Linked DNA regions of Homo sapiens: region 2 is linked to region 1. The links come from fine-mapping of genetic effects on gene expression. A gene starts in region 1. The other region holds a variant in brackets. All regions are shown on one strand. Distances are between the middles of the regions. Region 1 holds the start of ZNF35 (zinc finger protein 35). Region 2 has its middle 22 kb from the start of ZNF852.

The links. PIP is the estimated chance that this variant, and not a neighbour inherited with it, causes the effect.
Region 2: its variant is fine-mapped to the expression of ZNF35 in whole blood (TOPMed, PIP 0.99).

What each region holds. Positions count from the first base shown.
Region 1 is chr3:44,645,418-44,650,801 of GRCh38, forward strand. ZNF35 (zinc finger protein 35) reads left to right here and starts at 3,315. Exons shown (of 4, transcript NM_003420.4): 1 at 3,315-3,417. ZNF660-ZNF197 (ZNF660-ZNF197 readthrough) reads left to right here. Exons shown (of 8, transcript NR_147692.2): 8 at 1-3,054. ZNF197 (zinc finger protein 197) reads left to right here. Exons shown (of 6, transcript NM_006991.5): 6 at 1-3,054. The region is part of intron 2 of ZKSCAN7-AS1 (ZKSCAN7 ZNF cluster antisense RNA 1); the gene reads right to left. RefSeq lists enhancers at 3,000-3,559, 3,438-3,607, 3,688-3,797.
Region 2 is chr3:44,529,900-44,535,283 of GRCh38, forward strand. No RefSeq gene overlaps it. Among named protein-coding and RNA genes, the nearest start is that of ZNF852, 22 kb to the left of the region's middle. RefSeq lists silencers at 2,958-3,086, 2,978-3,272. The variant G/A (reference allele first, on the strand shown) is at 3,128.

The DNA of each region.
Region 1 (5,384 bases):
TTTGTTAAATTTACCTTTAAAAATATCTGAGGGAGTTACTAGATTATATATCTAGTTTATGTATATGGAAAAAAATGTTATGGCCAGCCATTAACAGTGATGCCAAGGAAAACAATTTATTTCCCAGCTTTTGAATTTGAAACTTAACAGATGGAGAGTGTCAAAATGGAAGGGCAGTGGTACCCTGCTTTCCCTATTCAGAGGGAAAAAAATCCTTGACCCGCAGTTGAGCTGATGATCCCTGCCACAGTCATTGTGAATTCTAATCAATATTTCATCATTGCTGTCAAATGATAGCCTGTTACTAATGAAACAACATTCTGTCCCAGCACTAAATTTACTGGGACATAAATTTTTCACATGGAGCCAAGCTCTTCACTGATTAAGCCAGTGCAGAATCCACTTGTGGGCAGTCAGTGCCCATTACCCCCTGTGAACCATTCTGTGCCCTTGAGTACATTTGTGGGTTTAACTCAGTCTATATTCTTAAGTTGGTAATTTTTATGTTGTAATTCTCAAAGTTCTGTTTCTGTAGCTGGACTATGAATAATACCTGAATATGAAGATTGTGTTTTTTAATAATGTCAAAGTGGTGTGTTGATTATCATAAATGTTATTAATTCAACCCCACAGTTTCTTGGGGGCTGGTTCCTCATTAGAGTGAAAGGTAGCCAAGAGTGAAAACTGGAAGGGGCCTAAGGCTTAAAGTCTTAAGACCTGGATGTGGTTCAGGTTTTGCCATCTGCCTCAGAAAAAATCTCTTCAGTTCTTGGAGCCTTGAATTCCTCATCTGTTAAACAGGAGGAAGAATATCTACCTCACAAAGTTCTTATGAGATAATGAATATAAAAATGTTTCATCCAGGTTGTTGAATCATCCCAGCTTATATAATAATTACAAAGGACATATGTACTTTAACAATGGAGAATGCTGTGATTTACCTCTTCACCGAGTAACAAAATGTCACATTGCTTAGATTGAGACAGCCCACATAATGTGCCACCTTCTGTGATGTAATAAGCTGAAAAATGTTCAACCTGAATTTAATCAAGCTTCTTGGACCTCATTGCCAGGTTACAGGAAATACAGGAGGCAGAGGAACAAATAAAAGACACCACGAGAAACAGACACATCCAGAACGTGGAATATTGCATAAGAAAGCTGCCCTGGATTCTTCAAAATATTATTATGATGAAAAAGAGAGGGGAGTGAAAATTGTTCAAGCTGTCTTGAGTCTGCTGTGAGTTTATTATACCATTCTCTGCTTTTGTGTATGTATGAAAATTTCGATATGAAAGGTATAAAACATGGATGAGGAGGCTTGTTTTTAAAAGATAATACTAGAGAGCCGTTAGGTACTAAGAACCAGAAATAGACTCACATAAATGGCCAATTGATTTTTGACAGGGGCAAAAGCAATTCAATGGAGGAGGGATCGCCTTTTCAGCAAATACTGTTGGAGTAATTGGATATCCATAGGCAGTAAACCAACAACTTCAGGACCTAGGACTGAGCTAAGAAGGCTCAGATGACTCAAAAGCATGCTCCTTAGAAGGAAAAAAAATGTTAAATTGGACTTCATCAAAATTAAGATAATTTACCCTGTAAGAGACCTTTTTACAAAGATGATATTACAGGTTGGGAAAAAATATTTGCAAATCATATCCAACAAGGGATTTGTATGTAAACTACATAAAGAACTTTCCAAATTTAACAGTAATAAGTAAATACAATTAGAAAATAAGCAAAAGACAGACATTTCACTGAAGTATAGATAGCAAATAAGCAAATGAAAAGATGTTCAACATCATTAGGCATGAGGGAAATGCAGAGTAAAATCGTGAGATATCACCTATCAGAATAGCTTAACTTTTTTTTTTTAATGGTGGTAACTGCTGGCAAGGATGAAGAGAAACAGGATCTCATACATTGCTGGGAATGTAAAATGGTACAGCCACTCTGGAATATAATTTGGCAGTTTCTTGTAAAACCACACATGTATATGTCATGCTTCAGGAATTGCACTTCTGAGCATTTATCCCAGAGAAATGAAAACTTGCGTTCACACAAAAACCTGTATACGAATGTTCATAGCAGCTTTATTTGTAATGGTCGAAACCTGTAGGCAACCCATATATCCTTCCTTAGGTGGTTAAAACAAATTGTGGTTTATGTATTACCATGGAATACTTGTTACTCTGCAATAAAATTGACTTATTGATATCCATAACAACTCAAATAAATTTCAAGGGAATTAATGCTGAGTGAAAATAATCACAAAAGGCCATATTCTGTATGAAAATATTCATATAACATTCTCAAAATGATAAAACTATAGAGATGAAAAATGGATTAATGGTTGCCAAAGGTTAGGGATGGTGGGAGGAAAAATGGGGAGAGGGTTGGATGGAACTATTAAAAGGTAGCACCAGAAAGGTCTTTGTGGTGATGGAACACTTGTGTATCTTGATTGCAGTGGTGGTTACACAAATCTATAGGTGCTATACCTATACACACATACTGTACCAATGTTGATTTCCTTTTTCATTTTATGTAAGATGTAACCATGAGGGGAAAGTGGGTGAAGGGTGCTATCTTTGCAACTTCCTGTGATTCTATCATTTCAAAATAAAAAGTAAAAACCAACAATGGCAACGAAAACCCAAAACTAAAGAGCTGTAACCAACTAAAGTGTGTGAAACTGATTTGAAAAAAAGTTATAAAATACATGTTTTAGGACAGTTGGGAAATTTGAATATGACTGGTTATTAGATGGTATTAGGGAATTTTTGTTGATTTTCTTACCTGTGACGGTGGTGGTAGTTTGAAGAATATTCTTAATCTTAAGGGATGCATGTTGAAGTATTTGGAATGAAGTGTTCTGATGTTTACAACTTTCAAAAAAATGATTTTAAATATGTATTGAGAGATCAGGCAAACATAGCAAAATGTTCATTGTTGAGTCCACATGGAAAATACGGGTATTCAATGTGCCATACTTTCAACTCTTCTGTACTCTGATATTTTCAAAATAAAACATTTGAGGGGAAATTATCAGGGCTTTCTACAGATTAATGCTGTGTAGCTTCAGGCTCTTGGGTGCGCGCCTCGCCTGAGTGTCTCATCCCTGCTTGGGATGCGCCCCTCCCTGAGGCTCACTTAGAGCTTCCAACAGCACAATCCTCCTAAGCGCTTCTGCCCCATCCCTGGTCTGGGGCGACATTGGACACCCATCGAGAGGAAAGCACCTCCGAGGTTCCTAGAGAGGCCGGCTTGGCGACTTGGGGAGCCGGAAGCCCATCCCGAGGCACTTCCTGTCCGGTCATTGTTCTCGTGCCGGTAGAAGCTGAAGTACCGGTCAGCCAGCCTCCTGCTGCAGAGCCAGTGAACTCAGGTCGGGCTTCTCAGCTGCGCACAGTGAGTGGGGTCGGAGGGGGTGGGCACGAACGTCGAGGGAGAAAAAGGGGCTCTCCCAGGGGCCATGGCCCTAGGAGCGGCCCCTGCGTCCTTTCCCCGGGGACACCAGCCTTGTCTGTCGGGGTGCGGGGGGCAGTGAGTTCCCCACCGCCTCGGAATCCCGGCTGCTGCCCACCTGGGGCCTGGTCCGGGAGAGGATGCACACGGACCGGCCAAGGGGCCAGATAGGTCCCAGGGACAGGGCCGCGAGGAGCCTATACGTGGAAAGAATGGATTGCCACGTTTGGAAATAGAGAAAGGACGTTGAAAGGGAGCCTTTGATAGAGGGCCCTGTGCCGTCTGGGACCGGAGGTCCGTCAGAATCTGATCAGAAGTCTGATGAGAGTACTCACTGTAGGCAGTCTTATACACAAGGTGGAACTAGTCTTAAGGACCTTCATACCAGATTGAATTCGGATAGTGATGGAAAGAATAGTCCTCCAGAATTAAGGTTTGTCACAGGAATGAAAGTATTGCATTACTTAATAAATTCAGTGTATACAGTAAGTGGCCAGTAAGTTGACATGGGGAAAAGAGTATGATCACTTCAATAGCAGCAACAGGGGATTGAATAAGATTTCGCACCCTTTTCCAATAAAACATTCAAAGGGGGTTAGAAAGAAAAATTTCAATCTCTTCATAAGCAATCAAACTAGTAAGGTTATTTTGCTCACAGGTTAAAAACAAAAACCCTGCTGGCTTAGCTGTGATAAAGGGTTACTGTCAATTAGTGGGGGTGTGAATTGGCATGGTGCTTTTGGAAAGCAATTTGACAGTACATATCAACCAGCAAATCCTTGAACCAGTAATTCTCTGATTATTCTAAAGGAATAATTCAGCAAAAAAAAAATATTTACAAAGAAAAACTTTTAAATATTAATAAAATGGAAATATAAACTTTTACTAAATAAATGGTTCATAAATAGAATATGATTAAGTAAATGATAATATAGCCACAATTTAGAATACTATGCCAGAATGAGGTAGTTCTATATGTGTTGTATTGAAAGATTGTTAAGACTATTGTGAAATACGGAAATTGAGTTAAAAAACAATGCAGGTTGCTGAACAGTATATAACTGTGATGATCTAAAGTATGTTTTTGAAAAATAAGCAATATGTGTGAAGGTGAACATATAAGTATGTAAATGCAGAGAAAATGGGTTAGGACTCCCATCTAAACTGATAAGTACTTTGTGTGTGTGTGTGTGTGTGTGTGTAGTGTGTGTAGGTTATATATTTAATTCTATATATTTCTGTATTACTTGATCCTTTTTCAATGAGAGTGAAGATTTATCAACACCATAGGTTATTGTGTAGCATTTAAAATAAGCATGAAGAATGGCAACATGAAAGTAATCTTTTTTTAAATCTTAAGTGTAATATTTTATCTCACAGGACATTTGGAAGCTATGGAAAATGTAAAAATCAAACAAAAAAAATGAAAAGAACCTTAAAACTACCTGTAATTACACCATCCAGAGTTAACTACCCACTGCTAACACGTTGGTATAAAGACTCCCAGTCTTTTTCTTGGGATCCTTTTGTTCACATTATTTTGTATCCTTGGCAATAAAAAATCTTTTTGTTGTAAAATCCTTTTTTAAAAAATGCTATGATGATAATTGTGAAAATATGTATCCCCAAAGTCAAAAACAAGAATTTGTAAAATCATAATTATTAGTAGTATGGTTGGAGATTTTCCTTTGAAAGAAATATCTTAAATCTTAAAATGTATAGTGGTTATCTCTTTGGAGGTAGACCGAGATGATTTTTCTTAATCATTTGCTGCTTTTAAGTTTTTACAATAAAAGTAAGTTAACTTTTAATCAGGAAAAAATCAATAAACATTATATAAAGCTGTTTGCAATGTGGTTATTATGGGAAGATATTACATATTTATAGTCCAACCCCTTCATCCTATGAGG
Region 2 (5,384 bases), 120 kb before region 1:
TGACAACTGCCCTTCCCACCCCCTTTCTAAAGTTCCCCAGCAAAAGAGAGGCCGTTGCTAATTGGATGAGTCAGAGTCCCAGACATTAGCTGGCCAACCTTATTTAGTGGACATGATAAATGTTTCTTTTAAAGCTGGGACCTTCATTGCCCTCTCTTTTTGTGACTTTGTTCTTCTGCTATGGGACAGGGCAGAGGGTAATAGCCTGAGATTTGGTTGCAGCCTCCAGAGGGCAGTAGAAGTCTTGCTTGAGTCTGATCTAAAAAGCAGGACAGCATATACTGATCTTCATGGTTTCTTGGTATGATTATTAATGGCAGACCCTTTCTTTCACTCATTTTTATTCTACAGAGTTTCCCAGTTTGGACAATAAATTATGGTCATCCAAGAGTCATGTCATCAAACTCATCTTCAGCAGAGGGCCTGAATTAGGGAAACAGGCACCAACTCAGTAATGATGAGATACAGTTGGTAAGTTCCATTTCCTAACAGGCTACTGTTCCTTGCATGGATCTCCTTTGGGAATTCAGCATGGAGGAAGTGGGACTGGCAGAGCAGGAGTCAGTCTTCCCGGATCCTTCATCAGAATATTTCATTTCTAATACAGGACAAGAGGAGTGATTCTCTGTTGGACTGGGAGGCCCAATAATTAAATGGGGGCAAGGGATGGAAATAAGAACATTCAAGGCCAGGCGTGGTGACTCATGACTGTAATCCTAACACTTTGGGAGGCTGAGGCAGGTGGATCACCTGAGGACAGGAATTCGAGACGAGCCTGGCCAACATGGTGAAAACCTGTCTCTACTAAAAATACAAAAATTAGCTATTCAGGAGGCTGAGGCAGGGAATTGCTTGAACCTGGGAGGCAGAGTTTGCAGTGAGCCTAGATTGCACCACTGTACTCCAGCCTGGGTGGCAGAGTAAGGCTGTCTCAGGAAAAAAAAAAAAAAAAAAAAAAAATTTGAAAGGAACACAGTCTTTGAAAGAATGAGAAACAATGCTTTCAATGGGGAGTGGGTACAGGCCATGAAGAGGGAGCTATCTCGCTGTGTCTTAAACCAGAAAGCTCTGCATGTGAGGTGGGCCCAGAAAAGATGAAGGTGACTCTAGAAAGACCCAGTGTGCCTACGGGTGTAAGCCTTCTAAGTCTCCCTGTTTCTGGTTTTTCCACTCAATTTTTACTGCACCAAAGAGCAGACAAGGAGGAATATAGGAGAGAAAGCATGGGCCATAAAAGACACTAATATAGTGTTACAAAGTCCAAGTCTATCCTTAATCACAATGTATACAAACATGTTATGTTTCCTCATTAAAAGGAAGGAGGGAGACAGAGAAGGGAGGAGACTTTTTACAAGAGATTTACCTACAATAAAACCAAACAATAGAAAAGGTTGAAAAGAAAGGAAGGAAAAAGGGTACACCAAGCAAGTTCTAACAACAAGAGAAAAAGCTGTGTAGAATTATTAATATGAGACAAAACAGACTCTAAGGCTAAGCATTTAATGGGCATAGAATGGAATATTTCATATTGATAAAAAACCAATAATCAATCCCTAAGTTGTCGAACAATGTCCAAGTCAGGAAACCTAGAAGTTACTCTTTTTTTCTTTTTTTTTGAGATGGAGTTTCCCTCTTGTTGCCCAGGCTAGAGTGCAATGGCACAATCTCGGCTCACTGCAACCTCCTCTGCCTCCTGAGTTCAAGCGATTCTCCTGTCTCAGCCTCCCAAGTAACTGGGATTACAGGCATACACCACCATGCCTGGCTAATTTTGTATTTTTAGTAGAGACAAGGTTTCACCATGTTGGCCAGGCTGGTCTCAAACTCCTGACCTCAAGTGATCCATCTGCCTCAGCCTCCCAAAGTGCTGGGATTACAGGCATGAACCACCACGCCCAGTCTAGAAGTTGCTCTTAATTCTCCACCCTCTCACATCTAAAACATCAGCAAGTCCAGTTTATTCTTCTTCCAAAATGCATTGTAAATCCACCCATTTCTTTCCATCTCCACAGCACATCATCCCTAGTCCTGGCCACCATCTTCTCTCAAATGTAGTCCTGCAATGGTGCTCTAACTGGCCTCCTGACACTGAAATTAATCTCCCCCAAGCAACTTCAAATTGGTTAACCTGGCCAACATGGTCTTCCGCAGGCAGGCCTCTGCCCAACTCTGACTGCACCTCTGACACTGTGACTCTCATCCAGGCACAGTGGCCTCCCTTCTGTCACCTGATCAGCCCAATCAGTTACATCTTGAGCCTTTGCAGCAACTTTTCCCACTGCATAGAATGCTCCTTTCTCACACCTTCAGGGGTATAGCAGTCCTTTAAAATTCATCTGTTAGTTTAAATGGCACCCCCTAAGAAAGGAGGGTGAAGTTTTTCAATACTTGTTAATATAGGAGCATAAGAATTACTGTAATTATCTTTCAACCTATTTGTTACCTTTATAAATAAACTTCTTATGACATAGACTACTAACACTAATCTGTGAAATGTTGAATTATGATGAAAACAGAGAACTGAGAGGCTGGGCACGGTGGCTCGTGCCTGTAATCCCAGCACTTTGGGAGGCTGAGGCAGGAGGATTACTTGAGGCCAGAAGTTTGAGACCAGCCTGGGCAACATAGTGAGACCCCTGTCTCTACAAAAAAACAATATAAAAATCAGCTGGACGTGGTGACACACACCTATAGTCCCAGCTACTCAGAAAGCTGAGGAGGGAAGACAGCTTGAGCCCAGGAGGTCAAGGATGCAGTGAGCTATGATCACACCACTTCACTCCAGCCTGGGCGACAGAGTGAGACCCTGTCTCAGAGACAGCGAGAGCAAATGGGGGTAGGGGGGAACACTAAGGATTCTCCTTCAAATAGTCCAATTTATTTCTTTTTTGTTTTTTTGAGACGGAGTCTTGCTCTGTCGCCCTGGCTGGAGTGCAGTGGTGCGATCTCGGCTCACTGCAACCTCCGCCTTCAGCGTTCAAGCAATTCTCCTGCCTCAGCCTCCCAAGTAGCTGGGATTACAGGCGTGCGCCACCACACCCGGCTAAATTTTGTATAAAACAAGTACCATCCACTAGATGGCGCTTCTAGCCTGTTCTATCCTGTTCTTGACTCTTTTCAGGACCCT[G/A]GACAGTGCCTGGTGTACAGCAACCGTTCCGTAACTATTGAATGATTTGTCATAAACTTACATGCACCCTGAACCTATCAGCACAGCTTTAAAATATATAAGGCAAATGGGTCTACAAAAAGAAAGAGACGAGTGTGAAGCCAACCCACACCCCTTAGAAACATACTAGGGAAACCCAAAACAACAAAGAACTTTTTAAATGCAAAAGTAGAATGACTGCTTTTACCCTCTGTATTTCTGAATTATTTTTTCAGGATTAATATGTATTACTTTGATAAATGAGATTAAATTTTTCTTCATGTTCCCTTCTCAAATTGTAAAGTCTTTTACTATGGTTCTAAGGAGCTGGTCAAACCTGTTCAGGGGTGTTAAGTGCACACCAAGATGGAAGGTGACAGGAAGGTGTATAACATTAGGATTATATTTAGGTTTATTCTTTTTTTTTTTTTTAGACGGAGTGTTGCTCTGTCACCCAGGCTGGAGTGCAGTGGCATGATCTCAGCTCACTGCAATCTCCACCTCCCAGGTTCAAGTGATTCTCCTGCCTCGGCCTCCCAAGTAGCTGGGATTATAAGCCTGCACCTCCACGCCCAGCTAATTTTTGTACTTTCAGTAGAGACGAGGTTACACCATGTTGGCCAGGCTGGTCTCAAATGCCTGACCTCAGGTGATCTGCCAACCTTGACCTCCCAAAATGCTGGGATTACAAGTGTGAGCCACCACGCCCAGCCTGTTTAGAGTTATTCTAAAAATCATAACTTCTTGGAATTAAAAAAGTTCTATACATGGCTAGTAACCCCTTCTGCAGCTGAAACTGACTACAAGTCCCCTTCTGTCACCCAGAGTGACCAGAATTGTGTTCTGTGAGGGGCAGGGTTCACTGGATAGCATGAGGTGACGTGCCAGGCTGAATTCTCTCCCTGCAGTGGAGGCTACTCTACAATAAAGTGAAAGGAAGATCTGACCTAATGCCCTGCAGAGCTTCATTTCTCCCACCATCTGGTTTTGTAAGGAAAAAAAGTATGTGCTTCTATGTATTTTTTTTAGCACTACTCCTTAATTTAAATGTCTATTTAAAAAAGACCAAAGCTTAACTGGTTATCTTTGAAATATAATTTCTTTTTATTTTCTTCTTTTACTTCTTTATATTTTCTTATATTTCTACAATCATAAGTACAAATTAGGTGGCAAAGAAATGATATAAAAGAAGCATGGTATCTGCCAAATCAAATTCTCTGGATGAGCTAATGCCCACCCAAGTGGCAAGTTGAGGAAAGGAGGGTGCTGTTGACTTACGGTCCATTTCTAATCTGTCCTGAGCGTTGGTAAGGCCAGGGGCTGGACAGTGGGCTATTGGAGAGGACTCCAGTCTCAGGCCAATGTACTCGGTACTTCCATCAGGAGGGTATGTGGCAGCTGGCCCTTCCATCCACAGTATCTTTTGGGCAGCTATACTGATCACTGTGGGAAAGAGAGTTTCTGCGGTGCCAGCTGAGTTGGTCTTCCCTGTGTGAGACACCCAAGGGGAGCCATGGGCGGCCTCTGAGGAGAAAAGTCTTCTTATTGCCTTCATGTCTTTATGCCCCGACAGCATAACCACTCAGCAGAATTCCACAGTTGCTCAAGGAGGTAACACTCCCTTGAAGCAGTGGAGTATAATCAAACATCTTGGCCCCTCCTGAAAGCCACTCCCACCCATTTCAGTCCCGATAAGTTAAAGATCTTAAGTAGTTTAGACACATGCCTTTGCTCAAGGAAATTCACAGAAACCACCACAGCTACACATATTATTGAATGACTCATGAGTTCTCCTTCACTGATTAATCCTTTTCCTCATCCCTTCCTACCCCTCCCATCTGCCCTAAGAACAAAGAGCTTGTAAACCAATAAATCAGGCAGAGCCTGGGCTGTGAGCAAGCCTCCGATGCTCAGGTCCCCTGGACCTGCTTTTTAAACGCTTATTCTGTCTCTTTCTAACTCCTTTGTCTCCGCTGGACTCAGGGTAGCAGGTGGTGTGGGGCTGGTTTCCCCAAACAATCACTGTAACAGATAAGGCAACATAAATACACTTTCTCATAACTTGTCATCTGCACTAGATTTAACAGCAGCACCAGTGATTCTGCAGTGCCCTCCAGGCACTGGAGCAGGATGACTTTAGGCATTTCTACAAACCCAAAACCTCCTTTCCTTTGTTGCCTCTCTTGACTCCACCCAGGGGTGCTTCTGTTTGAGGACTCATAGGGGAGCCAAATAAAGA